3 separate regions of the Homo sapiens genome follow, and regions 1 and 3 are each linked to region 2. Evidence: fine-mapped expression QTL. A gene starts in region 2. Each other region holds a variant in brackets. All regions are shown on one strand. Distances are between the middles of the regions. Region 1 overlaps LINC02288 (long intergenic non-protein coding RNA 2288). Region 2 holds the start of IRF2BPL (interferon regulatory factor 2 binding protein like). Region 3 overlaps LINC02288 (long intergenic non-protein coding RNA 2288).

The links. PIP is the estimated chance that this variant, and not a neighbour inherited with it, causes the effect.
Region 1: its variant is the best candidate, but not a certain one, in a credible set for the expression of IRF2BPL in whole blood (INTERVAL, PIP 0.76).
Region 3: its variant is the best candidate, but not a certain one, in a credible set for the expression of IRF2BPL in monocytes after LPS (Fairfax 2014, PIP 0.51).

The regions. Positions count from the first base shown.
Region 1 is chr14:77,051,544-77,055,650 of GRCh38, reverse strand. All of the region lies in intron 1 of LINC02288 (long intergenic non-protein coding RNA 2288), which reads right to left. Among named protein-coding and RNA genes, the nearest start is that of LINC02288, 13 kb to the right of the region's middle. RefSeq lists a silencer at 2,201-2,250 and an enhancer at 2,062-2,625. The variant A/T (reference allele first, on the strand shown) is at 2,077.
Region 2 is chr14:77,026,751-77,030,853 of GRCh38, reverse strand. It overlaps IRF2BPL (interferon regulatory factor 2 binding protein like), which reads left to right and starts at 2,146. Exons shown (of 1, transcript NM_024496.4): 1 at 2,146-4,103. The coding sequence starts at 3,062. It overlaps LOC107984638 (a long non-coding RNA gene), which reads right to left and starts at 3,386. Exons shown (of 4, transcript NR_190002.1): 1 at 3,043-3,386; 2 at 1,374-1,566; 3 at 1,118-1,193; 4 at 1-1,027. RefSeq lists an enhancer at 573-1,093 and silencers at 1,857-1,986, 2,187-2,396, 2,517-3,016.
Region 3 is chr14:77,061,144-77,065,250 of GRCh38, reverse strand. All of the region lies in intron 2 of LINC02288 (long intergenic non-protein coding RNA 2288), which reads right to left. Among named protein-coding and RNA genes, the nearest start is that of LINC02289, 13 kb to the left of the region's middle. The variant C/AC (reference allele first, on the strand shown) is at 2,296.

The DNA of each region.
Region 1 (4,107 bases), 25 kb before region 2:
CTAATTTTTGAAAGTCAATTGTTATGATCTTGTTCTGATACACACAAGATCAGGAAGCGTGACAGGCCTCAATTTCCTGATCTGTAAAATGAGAGTTAAATGAGATCATGCATCTAAAACCCCATGCCTGGGGCCTGGCACCTTGCCTGTGCTTCACTGAGAATCTATGATTCTCAGCCAAACAATGCCACGATTCTGTACCCATGCTCTGCCCTGACTGAGTGATGGCCACGCAGACCGTGTTGTTCCAGGTCCTCAGATGAACAGCCATCATTCTCCTCTAATGGAAATGGCCTGTCACCATGGCAGCACCCTGGCTAAGAGCAGTGGCTTCTAAACCAGATAAGCATGGATGTAAGCCCTTCTCTGTCGGTTTCTAGCTTTGTGACCTTAGGCAAGTTATTGACTGTCTCTGAGTCTTGGTTTCTTCACCTGAAAAGAGAAGAAGTCAGCCAACCTCCCTCTCCAGGAAATCTACCCTGATTAGCCTCTCCCCACCATATTTCTCTAAATAGAGCTTTGTCATGGCTTGTTTACAAGACAGGTATTAGTTTCAAAACTTTAAGAAAAGGGATGAAATTAACTATATTGGTTGGAAAAGGGGATTGGGGGACCCCTGACCATAATTTATTAATAATAGAGCCCAACACCTCCTGCCTCTTCCCATCGCCTCTCTCCTTGTTCCCACTAGGACAGCCTCTCTGACCATGCTTCAGTATCTTTGAGTTTGCCATTTCTTCTGCCTGGAACCCTCTTCTACCAAATAGCTTCATAGCTCACTCTCTCATCTCCTTTTGGTCTTTATTTAAATGTTACTTTTTCAATGAGACGTTCCCTGACCACCCCATTTAAAATCCCCCACTCATTTTGGGGCACCCTCTTTTTTGCTTTAGTTTTCTCCATAACACATATTACCCTCAAACATCATGTTTATGTTACTTGCTTATTTACTTTTCTATCCCAGACTCCCCCCTGCCCCCCCCACACAAATGTATGCTCCAGTGGGGCAGGATTTTGTGTTTGTGTTTGTCTATTTTGTTTACTAATATTGCCCTAGTACCTGGCTATAGCTCAAAGTTTGCTATATGAGTGTGTACAAAAGCACACGCACCCATACATATCCTGAGCGTGGGGTGAAACTGTGGACATCTTGAAAGAATAAGCTGGACCCGACTTGGGTTGTGTGTTGATAGGGGTGTTAAAGCATTCCTCCAGCATCAACTGGCTTCCAATCCTCACCTTTGCTGTGTGTGTGTGTGTGTGTGTGTGTGTGTGTGTGTGTGTGTGTGTAATGAAGGCCATGGGGAGTAGAAAATTGGATGTTAATAAAAAGTCATCAAGAACATATTTCCTATCCTCTTCTAGCCCTTAAAGCCCTACCAACCATGAAGGATTTGCCCAGTGGTCTGGGGGAGAACAGGAATCCGGGCAGGCGATGGTTCCTACCAGGTTGGCACTGAGGCTAACCAGTCCAATTAATTTAAGGAGAAATACCCATGTGTCACCTGGAGAGAAAGTTGCAGGGTAACTGCACGATCCTCCCACATCCACTCTGATGACCTCTCATTAGAGGTTAGGGCTCTATCATTGCCCTGGAGCAGAATGGCTTGGGGCGGGGGTCTTCCGGGGTTCCTGGTAGATGGAGAGCCTGGGGAGATTGGCATGACAGGGTCCCTTCAGAATGAACCAAATGAATGACAGCCCAGGCTCAAAGGGATGAGGTTTCCTTTGAGAAGAGATGGCTGTTGGTGGTGACTGTTAGTTCCTACTAATGACAGCGACCTTGAAATCCATACCCAGGGTCTCTACCCTCTGGTTTGAGGGGAAGGAGTAGAGAAGTCTTCCATGCTACAGATGAGAACCTGAAGCTCTGAGGGATTATGTTCTCTGTCTAAGATTACCGCAAGTCCACGATGCCAGGACCTTTGTTCATTGCTATATCCCGATGCAGAACCATTTCTGTTGAATGAATGAACATTCAAGCAGATATTGATAGTCTCTGGGCTTGAACCCATGCGTGGTCGACACCAAAACTAGTTGGCTCCAAAAACCTAGCTTATCTTTCACTCATTTTGC[A/T]TCCCTCCCAAAGCCTGGCGGGGTACCTGACACCTGGGGGGTGATCTGTGAATATTGGGTCAATTGACCCGGCAGCAGCAGGTGGTGCTAACACGAACCACCTGAAGACCCCCAGCGGACAGGCGGGACCTCTGCTCGCAGCCAGCAGGGGGCGCGCACACATTGTTTTCCAGTGGGCTCACCTCCCCAGGCCCCCTTTGCAATCCTGTCCCGACGAGTGGTGTATTAGACAGAAAGGGCCCTCCCTCAACCAGCCTGTTTTATGTCAGGAGGCTTCAAATTATGCGGTCTTCCCCAGCAGGCAGCCCTCTGGGACGTGTGGCTCCTACACCAGGCGCTGTGCTAGGCCCTTGACACGCATTATCTCATTTCATCATCTGAGGTACTGATATCAATTTTACAAATGAGACTACTAAAGTGCTATTTTTACCCATTTTACAAATGAGAATACTGAGGCTTGGGGTTGTTCAGGGACTCGTACCCCTCTACCCTTGAGGCCTCGCCTCTTTGGGGTGGTGGGACCCTAACAAGTCCTGGCAGAGGCCTGAGCTTCTGGAGAGGGCCAGATGGGAAAGACCACTTCTCAGAAGAGGAATGGCTCCTGCCCGGGTTCTTCTCCAGTTCCTGCCTCCTCATGGTTTGTCACTGTTTCCCAGAGCTCTGGGCAGACACCTTGGGCAGGCCTGCCAGCTCCATGCTGTGCCACAGGGCAGCCAGGGACACTCCCTCCTGGTGTCAATTCCAGACACCTGGCACACACTGGGGAGTGTCCTGGGTGGTGTTGGTGGTGGTGGGAGGAGAGAAGGCTTCCTAGCATGTCACAGTAGGGCCAACTAGCCCACCCTCTTTGCCATTTTACATGCAAGGAAACTGGCCCAAAGGGGAGGCCCCTGGCCCAGGGGCTTGTCACGGCAGAGCCAGGGCTGGAACCCAGCTCTCTGGATTGCCAGTCTTTCTTCAGGCGCTAGCAGATCATGTTCTCTGAGGCCTGGAATTGCCTCCTTCCTCACATCCACCTCTCTCCCCACCCCTGCCATGTGCCATGAGCAATCCTGCCCATGCTGCCCTAGGCCCGGCTCCCTGCCCCTCTTCCGGGGAGCCTTTGCCATCCTGAGTTAGAACCACTTGTTCTCTTTAGTCTGTAGCAAGTGTGTCTGTCTGTTCCTGGGTGACTCGCCCCATCTCCGCAGCTGATCTCTGAAACAAGTGCCAAGGGGTAGGACAGTACAATGGACGAGGCACTGGGCTTGACTTTGAACCTGAGTGGGCCTCCAACTTGCTGTGTGACTGAGGGAGGTCATTTCACCTCTCTGGGCTTCTATATCCCCCCCTGGTCTGGGTCAGGGTTGTTTGGATGTTATCCATGGAGTCTCTGACTCAAGGCAGAGTGGACAGGACCCTATCCCTGCCCTAGATTAAACTGCAGCAGTCTTTTTTTCTTTCTTAAATACTTGGGCTTTGGAGTTCTGAGGCACCCAAGTTTAAAGGCCATTCTGAGGTCCTTTCTACTCTGATCTTGCTCTCGGTATCTCTCACCCCACCCCACCATTAGCCAGGAGGAATATGGCATCTTACATAAAGTATTCTCAATAAAGATTTGGTGAACAGACTTGAGCGTCAGTGGCCAGGCGCGGTGACTTATGCCTGTAATCCCAGCACTTTGGGAGGCTGAGGTGGGTGGATCACCTGAGGTCGGGAGTTTGAGACCAGCCTGGCCAACATGGTGAAACCCCGTCTCTACTAAAATTATAAAATTAGCCGGGCGTGGTGGTGCATGCCTGTAGTCCCAGCTACTTGGGAGGCTGAGGCAGGAGAATCACTTGAACCCGGGAGGCAGAGGTTGCAGTGAGATGAGATCACGCCACTTCACTCCAGCCTGGGCGAAAGAGCGAAACTCTGTTGCCAAAAAAAAAAAAAAAAAAAAAAAAGAATTGAGCATCGAAGCAGGGCTGTGCTGAACCCAGCTCAACAGGGGAGGGGCAAGCAGGAAAGGAGACCCTGGAACAAGCTTCTAAGGTGAAGGCGGCCTTT
Region 2 (4,103 bases):
GGAGACTGAGGCAGGAGAATTGCTTGAACCTGGGAGGTGGAGGTTGCAGTGAGCTGAGATTGCGTCACTGTACTCCAGCCTGGGTGACAGAGTGGACTCTGTCTCAAAACAACAACAAAATACTATAGATAATATCCCCTTAATAATGTAGATAATATTAAGGGTGATGCAAGTAAAGCCACCTAGTTTACTAAGGTCCCACGGCAAGTCTAAGTAAGCGTTATCTCTTCTTATGACAAGAAACAAATTGAGGCCGGGTGAGGTGGCTCATGCCTGTAATCCCAACACTTTGGGAGGCCAAGGTGGGTGCATCACTTGGGCCCAGGAGTTTGAGACCAGCCTGGGCAACACGGCAAAACCCCATCCCTTTCCAAAAATACAAAAAAATTGGCCAGGTGTAATGGCACATGCCTGTAGTCCCAGCTACTAGGGAGGCTGAGGTGGGAGGATTACTTGAGCCTGGGAGGTCAGGCTGCTGCCAGCCGCGAGTGTGCCACTGCACTCCAGCCTGGGCAACAGAACAAGATCCTATCTCAAAAAAACAAAAAACCGAAGTTGAAATCTCAAACAACCCTAACAACCTGGGAGCTATCATTCCATTCTCTTTTCCATGGAAAAGAGAGATTTTGTGGGTAACTAGCTTAAGGGTGGAGAGCCAGTTAGTGATGGAGAGGAAATTTCAATCTGGTGGGCCACACTTCAGAATCCGAAATCCCATTATATTGCTTTCCCTTCTCCAGCCTTCCCTGGGATTATCTCAGTTTTCATGAAATAAAAAAAAAAAAAAAAGCAAACCCAATAATTAGAATAATCAATAGAAATGCCCCAACTAGAGCTATGACCAACATATCCATCGTGCCATAAGCAATACTGATGAGCAGTGATCTTGTAAGGCAGAAGAAATCACGGCCTTGGCCGGGCGTGGTGGTTCATGCTTGTAATCCCAGCACTTTGGAAGGCCGAGGCGGGAGGATCACCTGAGGTCAGGAGTTCAAGACCAGCTGGCTAACATGGTGAAACCATGTCTCTACAAAAATACAAAAAATTAGCTGGGCCTGATGGCGGGTGCCGGTAATCACAGCTACTTGGGAGGCTGAGGCGGAAGAATCGCTTGAACCTGCGAGGCAGAGGTTGCAGTGAGCCGAGATCGCGCCATTTTGCACTCCAGCCTGGGCGACAGAGCAAGACTCCGTCTTAAAAAAAAAAAAAAAAAAAAATCACGGCCTTGTTCCGCCTTCTGGGGCAACATGGAGTGAGATCACAGCGCCTGAGAAAGAACTTTGAAAACTGCGGCTGTGCTTTACAAAAATGTATCAGTATTATTAAATGCTGCCTCCACCTTTTAAAAATCAAACTCTAGAAAAAACACTCACCTGTTTGGCCTCTCCGGCCCCTCCCCCTCCCTGCCCTGAACTGCAGCTGTGCGCAGCCAGTTGCCTGTTTTCCTTAAAGGCCTCGGGGTGCTCGTATCTTCTTCAGACGTTCAGCCAAAATTTTTAAAGTGCGGCTGGGGGGAAGGGTAGCGCACTCTGAATTCATTTAGCTCTATCGTTGAAGCCCGGGTTCCTAGATCAGGGCACAAAAACAAATAGAAAAGACAATTTCTGGAAGATTGGAAAACAGCTAATTTTGCAGGTGCTTCGGCATCAGTGGTGGCGATGAATTTAACATCCATGCCGGGGGGGATAAGGTTCAACCGCAGATGAAATGGTTAATACCTTATACGAAATTCACGGCGAAAAATCCTGAAACAGGACATTTAAATTCACTGCCGAGGCTTGGGGGTGGGGTGGGGAGCAGGGATCGGAAACGACGCTAGTGGTTCTTAAATGCGTTTTTACTTGGGAATGCCCGGCAGGGAAAGGAAAGGTCATCGTCTGTTTAATTTCCACCCCCAGCTCTGGACTTCCAGCATTAGCTCGCCGGGCCTCAGCTGTTGTACACACACGGCGAGGGGGGAGGGGAGGGCGGAGGCGCGGAGGAGGGGCCGGCTGGGAGGAATCTGGGCGTCCTGCCGCGCATGCGCCTTGCCTGAGCAACAAGTGGGCTCCACAGAGGAAGTGTAAAGGGGAGGGGGAAGAACTGGTGCAGAGCATGGCGGTGACGTCAGCGCTCCGCCCGGGCGGCATCCCGCGCGGCCAAGCCGGGGACAGCGCGAGCCGCAGCCGGAGCAGGAGCGCCGAGACGCGCCTCCGGAACGTAGAGTAACAATCACAACCCCACATTCCGGGCGAGCGTGAGCACGAGCGGGAAGGGATGCGACCCGGGCCGAGGCGCCGCGCGAGCGCCCTGCAGCCAACGTGAGCGCCGCCAGCCGCGGCGGCCCGGGCGCCGGCCAGGCCTGGGGGCGGCGGGAGCCTGCGTGCGTGCACTCCTCTCCTCTGCTCTCGTGCGTCCTGGAAGCAGTGGCCGCGGCGGCTCCCTCCGGGGTGCAAACCCAGTCGCCGCCAGCAGAACGGCCGACGCTGCGGAGGGGAGAAGGTCCTTTCTCGGCTGCCACCCCCTCCCCCGGTCCTCCGGGGAAGCAGCGGCTTCAGCAAGATTGGACCCGGGCACCGGGTGGCACTGAACCCTCTGGCCCTCGCCCCAGGGGGCCCGTCGGGGAGAGGACGCAGCTCGTAGGGGGGTCCCCGGGGAGAGGAAGAGACAGCCCCTTTCGAGCTTCCACGCACCAGCCACTCCGGGGAGGGGGCCAAGAGGCAACGGCGGCCACCACCGGGCACCCTCGCCCCCTCCCCTCGGGCCGGGAGCTTCCAGCCCAAGTCTGCAGCACCAGGAAGAAGGCGCCTGAGCTCCCCTCGCGACGAGTCAACCGCAGTAGGAGGTGGGGGCGAAGAGAGGGCTGAACCCGTCCGCTGCCCGGGCGGTGGAGCCCCCACGGCGAGGCGCTGCGCCGGCGGTGGAGACTCGCGTTCCCTCCAGCCCCTGGGGCAGAACTTTCTCGCCCCCCCTCCTCCCTCCCCCGCAGTCGGACTCCCTCCCCAGCCGGCCAGTCCTCCCGGAGGAGAAGGCGCCGCGGAGACAGCCCGGGCGGGGGCCTACCTTCCCCAGGGCAGGCATCATGTCGGCGGCGCAGGTGTCCTCGTCCCGGAGACAATCTTGCTACCTGTGCGACCTGCCCCGCATGCCCTGGGCCATGATCTGGGACTTCTCGGAACCCGTATGCCGCGGTTGCGTCAACTACGAGGGCGCTGATCGCATCGAATTCGTGATCGAGACAGCGCGCCAGCTGAAGCGGGCGCACGGCTGCTTCCAGGACGGCCGCTCCCCCGGGCCGCCGCCGCCCGTCGGGGTCAAGACAGTGGCCCTGTCGGCTAAGGAAGCGGCGGCGGCGGCGGCAGCAGCGGCGGCCGCCGCCGCCGCCGCGCAACAGCAACAGCAACAGCAGCAGCAGCAGCAGCAACAGCAGCAGCAGCAGCAGCAGCAGCAGCAGCAACAACAGCTCAACCACGTTGATGGTTCCAGCAAGCCTGCGGTGCTGGCGGCCCCGTCTGGCCTGGAGCGCTACGGCCTAAGCGCTGCCGCCGCCGCCGCCGCCGCCGCCGCCGCTGCGGTGGAACAGCGCAGCCGCTTCGAGTACCCGCCACCGCCGGTGAGCCTGGGAAGCAGCAGCCACACCGCGCGACTGCCCAACGGCCTGGGGGGCCCAAACGGCTTCCCCAAACCAACACCAGAGGAGGGACCCCCAGAGCTGAACCGTCAGAGCCCCAATTCTTCTTCAGCGGCGGCGTCGGTGGCGTCTCGGCGTGGAACGCACGGTGGGCTGGTTACGGGGCTGCCCAACCCGGGGGGTGGCGGAGGCCCCCAGCTCACCGTGCCCCCCAACCTGCTACCGCAGACGCTGCTTAACGGCCCGGCCAGCGCTGCGGTACTCCCCCCACCCCCTCCCCACGCCCTGGGCAGCCGTGGGCCCCCGACGCCTGCTCCCCCAGGGGCTCCTGGGGGCCCCGCTTGTCTCGGGGGTACCCCGGGTGTATCGGCCACGTCGTCCTCCGCGTCGTCTTCGACCTCTTCGTCGGTGGCAGAGGTGGGCGTGGGTGCTGGTGGTAAGAGGCCCGGCTCGGTGTCGAGCACAGACCAGGAGCGCGAGTTGAAGGAGAAGC
Region 3 (4,107 bases), 34 kb before region 2:
GCAGGAGAGCTGGACATTGCCTGGACCCACATCAAAAGGCTCCTGCTGTGCTGGAAGGGTCAAAGCATCCTAGGCCCATCCTGGCCTTGTGATCTGAGTCTGGGGCTGCGGTGGCCAGGTTGTCCAGTGGACACTGTAGAGGCAGCCTCGGGGTGAGAAGCCCCTCATGTGGACCCGCAGCAGGGGACATAAGTGGGAAGGAACCCAAAGGCTCAGGGGGAAGCAGGGGTGTCGCTACATCAAGTAAAGCTCCTTCTCGCACCTGCCAGCATGCTGGGAGGATGCTACCTCTAGCATCCTAGGGATGGCAGAAAGGGGCAAGCATGGCTCTGCCTCCTGCCTCTGTGCCTGGTGCAGGCTCCACTGTGGTGTGGGGTCTCTGGCAGTGAGGACTAGGCTACAGCCACCACTCTGGCCTGTGAATCCTAAAGGAGCCAGGGCATGACAGTCCCCACTGCCAACCTAGAGTCCCTCAAACTCTCTATCTAGCCTGGCACTGCCTCCCTCGTCCTGCCAGACCCAGGGCAACAGCTGTGACTCTCCAGGGCTGTGCTCTGAGGGAGGAGCCCTTCCATTCTAGAGATTGCATGGTTGCCAAGCCTACCAAGGGCCCAGCCTTCACTGCCCGGGGAGCCTTTGTTTTCTCCTTCCTTGTTCTAGAAGGAAGAATGGGGGCTAGGGGCACGATCATGTACTATACACCTCTTCTGAGATAGGATCCCAGCTGGTTTCCTGATACTTCAGCCCATTCACATTCCTTAACTGCCCTATAGATGAGGCTCACAGACATGGGAGTGATGGGGTGTGATTTGGCCACACAACCCAAAGATATGGAGCTGAGACCCATACCCAGGTCCTTCCATCCCAGGGGCCACTCATTCCTACAATGCCTCAGTGCAGGCTTGCTGCTCTGCAGGCTCAGAGAGGATGCTTACCCTTTACTCCTGGTGAGCAGAGAACCTAGCCACGGAAGGAAGCCCAAAGAGGGACAAGCTCCTGGGGCTCCTGGGGGCCCCCCAGCCCTCCCTGACCCTCCTCTGCGGGGGCTGCTTCCAGGGGTCTTCCTTGCTTCCCAGTCCTCTGCATGCTTCCCTGACACCTCCACTTATGGAGCTCAGACCCTGCTTGCTGGAGTCAGGTCAGCCGGGCCTTGACCCCGCCCCTCCCCTGCTTGTGGATTTAGGGGCCTTTTTGCTGGCATCACCCTGTCCCAGCCAGACCGGGAGGACCCCTTCTTCTAAGCTCTCAGCCCTTCCTGCCAACATCTTTTAGCCAAGATTCAGCGAATCAGCAAAGTCTGACGGTTAACATGGCTCCCATCCCAGCTCTGTCATCACTAGCCATGTGACCTTGAGAATGTCTCGGAACATCTGTCTCCCAGTTTTGTCATCTATAAAATGGGGATGCTAACAGCGATATTCCTAGAGCTGTTGCAAGCGTCAAACATACACATAATTGGAACAGCTCCCCGCTGTGGTTTGTGCTCTGTATATCTTTACTGTTATTGTTATCTTTTTCTTCCTCTGAGCTCCTTCCACAGGATGGGTTATTCTGCAGATCCATGACTGGAAGGAAATTAGAGTGGGCTGGATGGAAACCAGGCCGTGGGCCTGATGAAACTGCCATATGGTGCTTTGCTCAGAGCTGTATACAAGAAGAACAAGTTCATATGCCAGTTGGGTGGTGGTGGAGATTGGGGAGGGAAGTAACAAGGACAGGGCTTTGCATATGCTCTATTTTTTGCCCCCTACCTTCCCCTAAAGCCCGTGGCCTCCAATCCCCATTGTCTCCCTTTCCTTTGGGTCTCTGGGTCTCTGATCGTCTTGTGAAAAACCCCATGGAGAGGCGGGGCAGCTGGAAAGAGGAGGAAGTGAGATGGATAACCATGCTGTCTAGTGGCTGGATAACCATGCTGTCTAGTGGCTGGCGCCCTGCGTGTGCTCAGCTACTGGCAGGTTCTACTGTGGTGTTTAACAGTAACTGTGAGCAGGCTGGGTGCAGTGGCTCACGCCTGTAATCCCAGCACTTTGGGAGGCCGAGGCGGGTGGATCACGAGGTCAGGAAATCGAGACCATCCTGGCTACCACGATGAAACTCTGTCTCTACTAAAAATACAAAAAATTAGCCGGGCGTAGTGGCAGGTGCCTGTAGTCCCAGCTACTCGGGAGGCTGAGGCAGGAGAACGGCGTGAACCCAGGAGGCGGAGCTTGCAGTGAGCCGAGATGGTGCCACTGCACTCCAGCCTGGGTGACAGAGTGAGACTCCGTCTCACAAAAAAAAAAAAACAAAAAAAAA[C/AC]CAGTAACTGTGGGCAAAGCCAATGTGAGTCTCGCAAGCCAACTGTGGTTTGTCTTTATTTCTTTCTCTCTACAAGAGACCCTTAAAAAGAAAGTCATTCTTGATACAAAGCACTGGGAACCCTCACAGTTGGCCCTAAAAACAACCAATAGCTCCTTATCTGGCACATGTATATCTCTTTGTTTTCCCCCGCTGTGTTGCCCCTGAAAATACCATGTCTGTCCTGCTCGCCACTGAGTCCTGATGCACCAAGCATGAACTAACGATTGATCTGCACTTGTAGACAGGGTGATGGAGAAGGGATCTGCAAACTTGGGAGCTTTACCAGAGAGCTAACACCTGTGAAAGGGCCTCATACAGTGTCTAGCACATAGTAGGTACCCCATAAATGCCACTTGACTCTGAGTCTGGGGGGCTGTTTGGTTGTCACCAATTTTGATGTATTTCTGGGCTAACATGTCCAGCAAGCAGGTGTGACCACACCCAGCCTGTTCAGGCTTAGCCAAAGAACTAGCAGCCAGTCCTTCCTGTGCAATGAGCCCAGCTCCAGCAGCTCACGTTGACTCCACCCAACCAGCTCTCTCAGCGGGTGATACCTGCCTTCTGCTGCGCAGGGTCTTTAATGCAATGTGTCTGTTTCAGGGTTGCCTCCTGAGGAGGGTAGAAGCCACCTCTAGCAACCCTCTGCTCAGCAGATAATGTCCCTTGCTAGCACCGATCCAAGGGGAAACAGGACCCACAGGCCCTTTGCAAAGGCTTCTTGAGGATAAGGAGGTGTTTCCCTCTGGGGTTCCTCTCTCGGCATTGAGGACTAAGGCATTTTCACAGCAACAGAATTCACTGTCTGACTAGTGCTTCCTGGAAGTCAAAACATGGTCAAGATCAGGTGACCAGGGGCCTCTAGAAGCCTTTGTCATAGTCATCTCCATGCTTTTACGTAACTTGGCCAGCCTGGACACACAGGTGACCTGCTACTCCTTGAGGGTTCTTAGGGCAGAGGAACCTCTGGCCAGGCCTCCTGGTGACTGGAAATGATGCGTGCTGAACTGCTGAGCATGCCTGCAAGGCCAGTGTAAACCACCATCCAGCCCCACCCCCACTCCCGCCCCACCTGCAGGCCCCCCTTGGGTACTCTAATGTGCCTGCGCCTGCCCACCTCGGGGCCTTTGTTACACAAAGACTTGCAAGCAGTGGTTCTGAAACTCGAACATGCATCGGAAGCCCCTGGTACGCTCATTCACGGATTCTGGGCCTCTTCCGCAGAGTTCCCAATTCAGTGGGTCTGGGGTGGGGCCTGACAGTTTGCCTTTCTTACAAATTTCTTTGCTGAAGTGGCTCACACCTGTAATCCCAGCACTTTGGGAAGCTGAAGCAGGAGAATTGCTTGAGCCCAGGAGTTTCAGACCAGCCTGGAAAACATGACAACACCTGTCTCTACAAAAAATAAAAAAATTAGGCCAGGCGTGGTGGCTCACACCAGTAATCCCAGCACTTTGGGAGGCTGAGGTGGGTGGATCACCTGAGGTCAGAAGTTCAAGACCAGCCTGGTCAACATGGTGAAACCCCGTCTCTACTAAATATACAAAAATTAGCCGGGTGTGGTGGCTGGAGCCTGTAGTGCCAGCTACTCAGGAGGCTGAGGCAGGAGAATTGCTTGAACCCGGGAGGCAGAGGTTGCAGTGAGCCGAGATCATGCCATTGTGCCCTAGCCTGGGGCAACAAGAGTGAAACTTCGTTCCAAAAAAAAAAAAAAAAAAAATTAGCTGGGTGTGGTGGTGTGCACCTGTAGTCCCAACTACTTGGGAGGTGGGA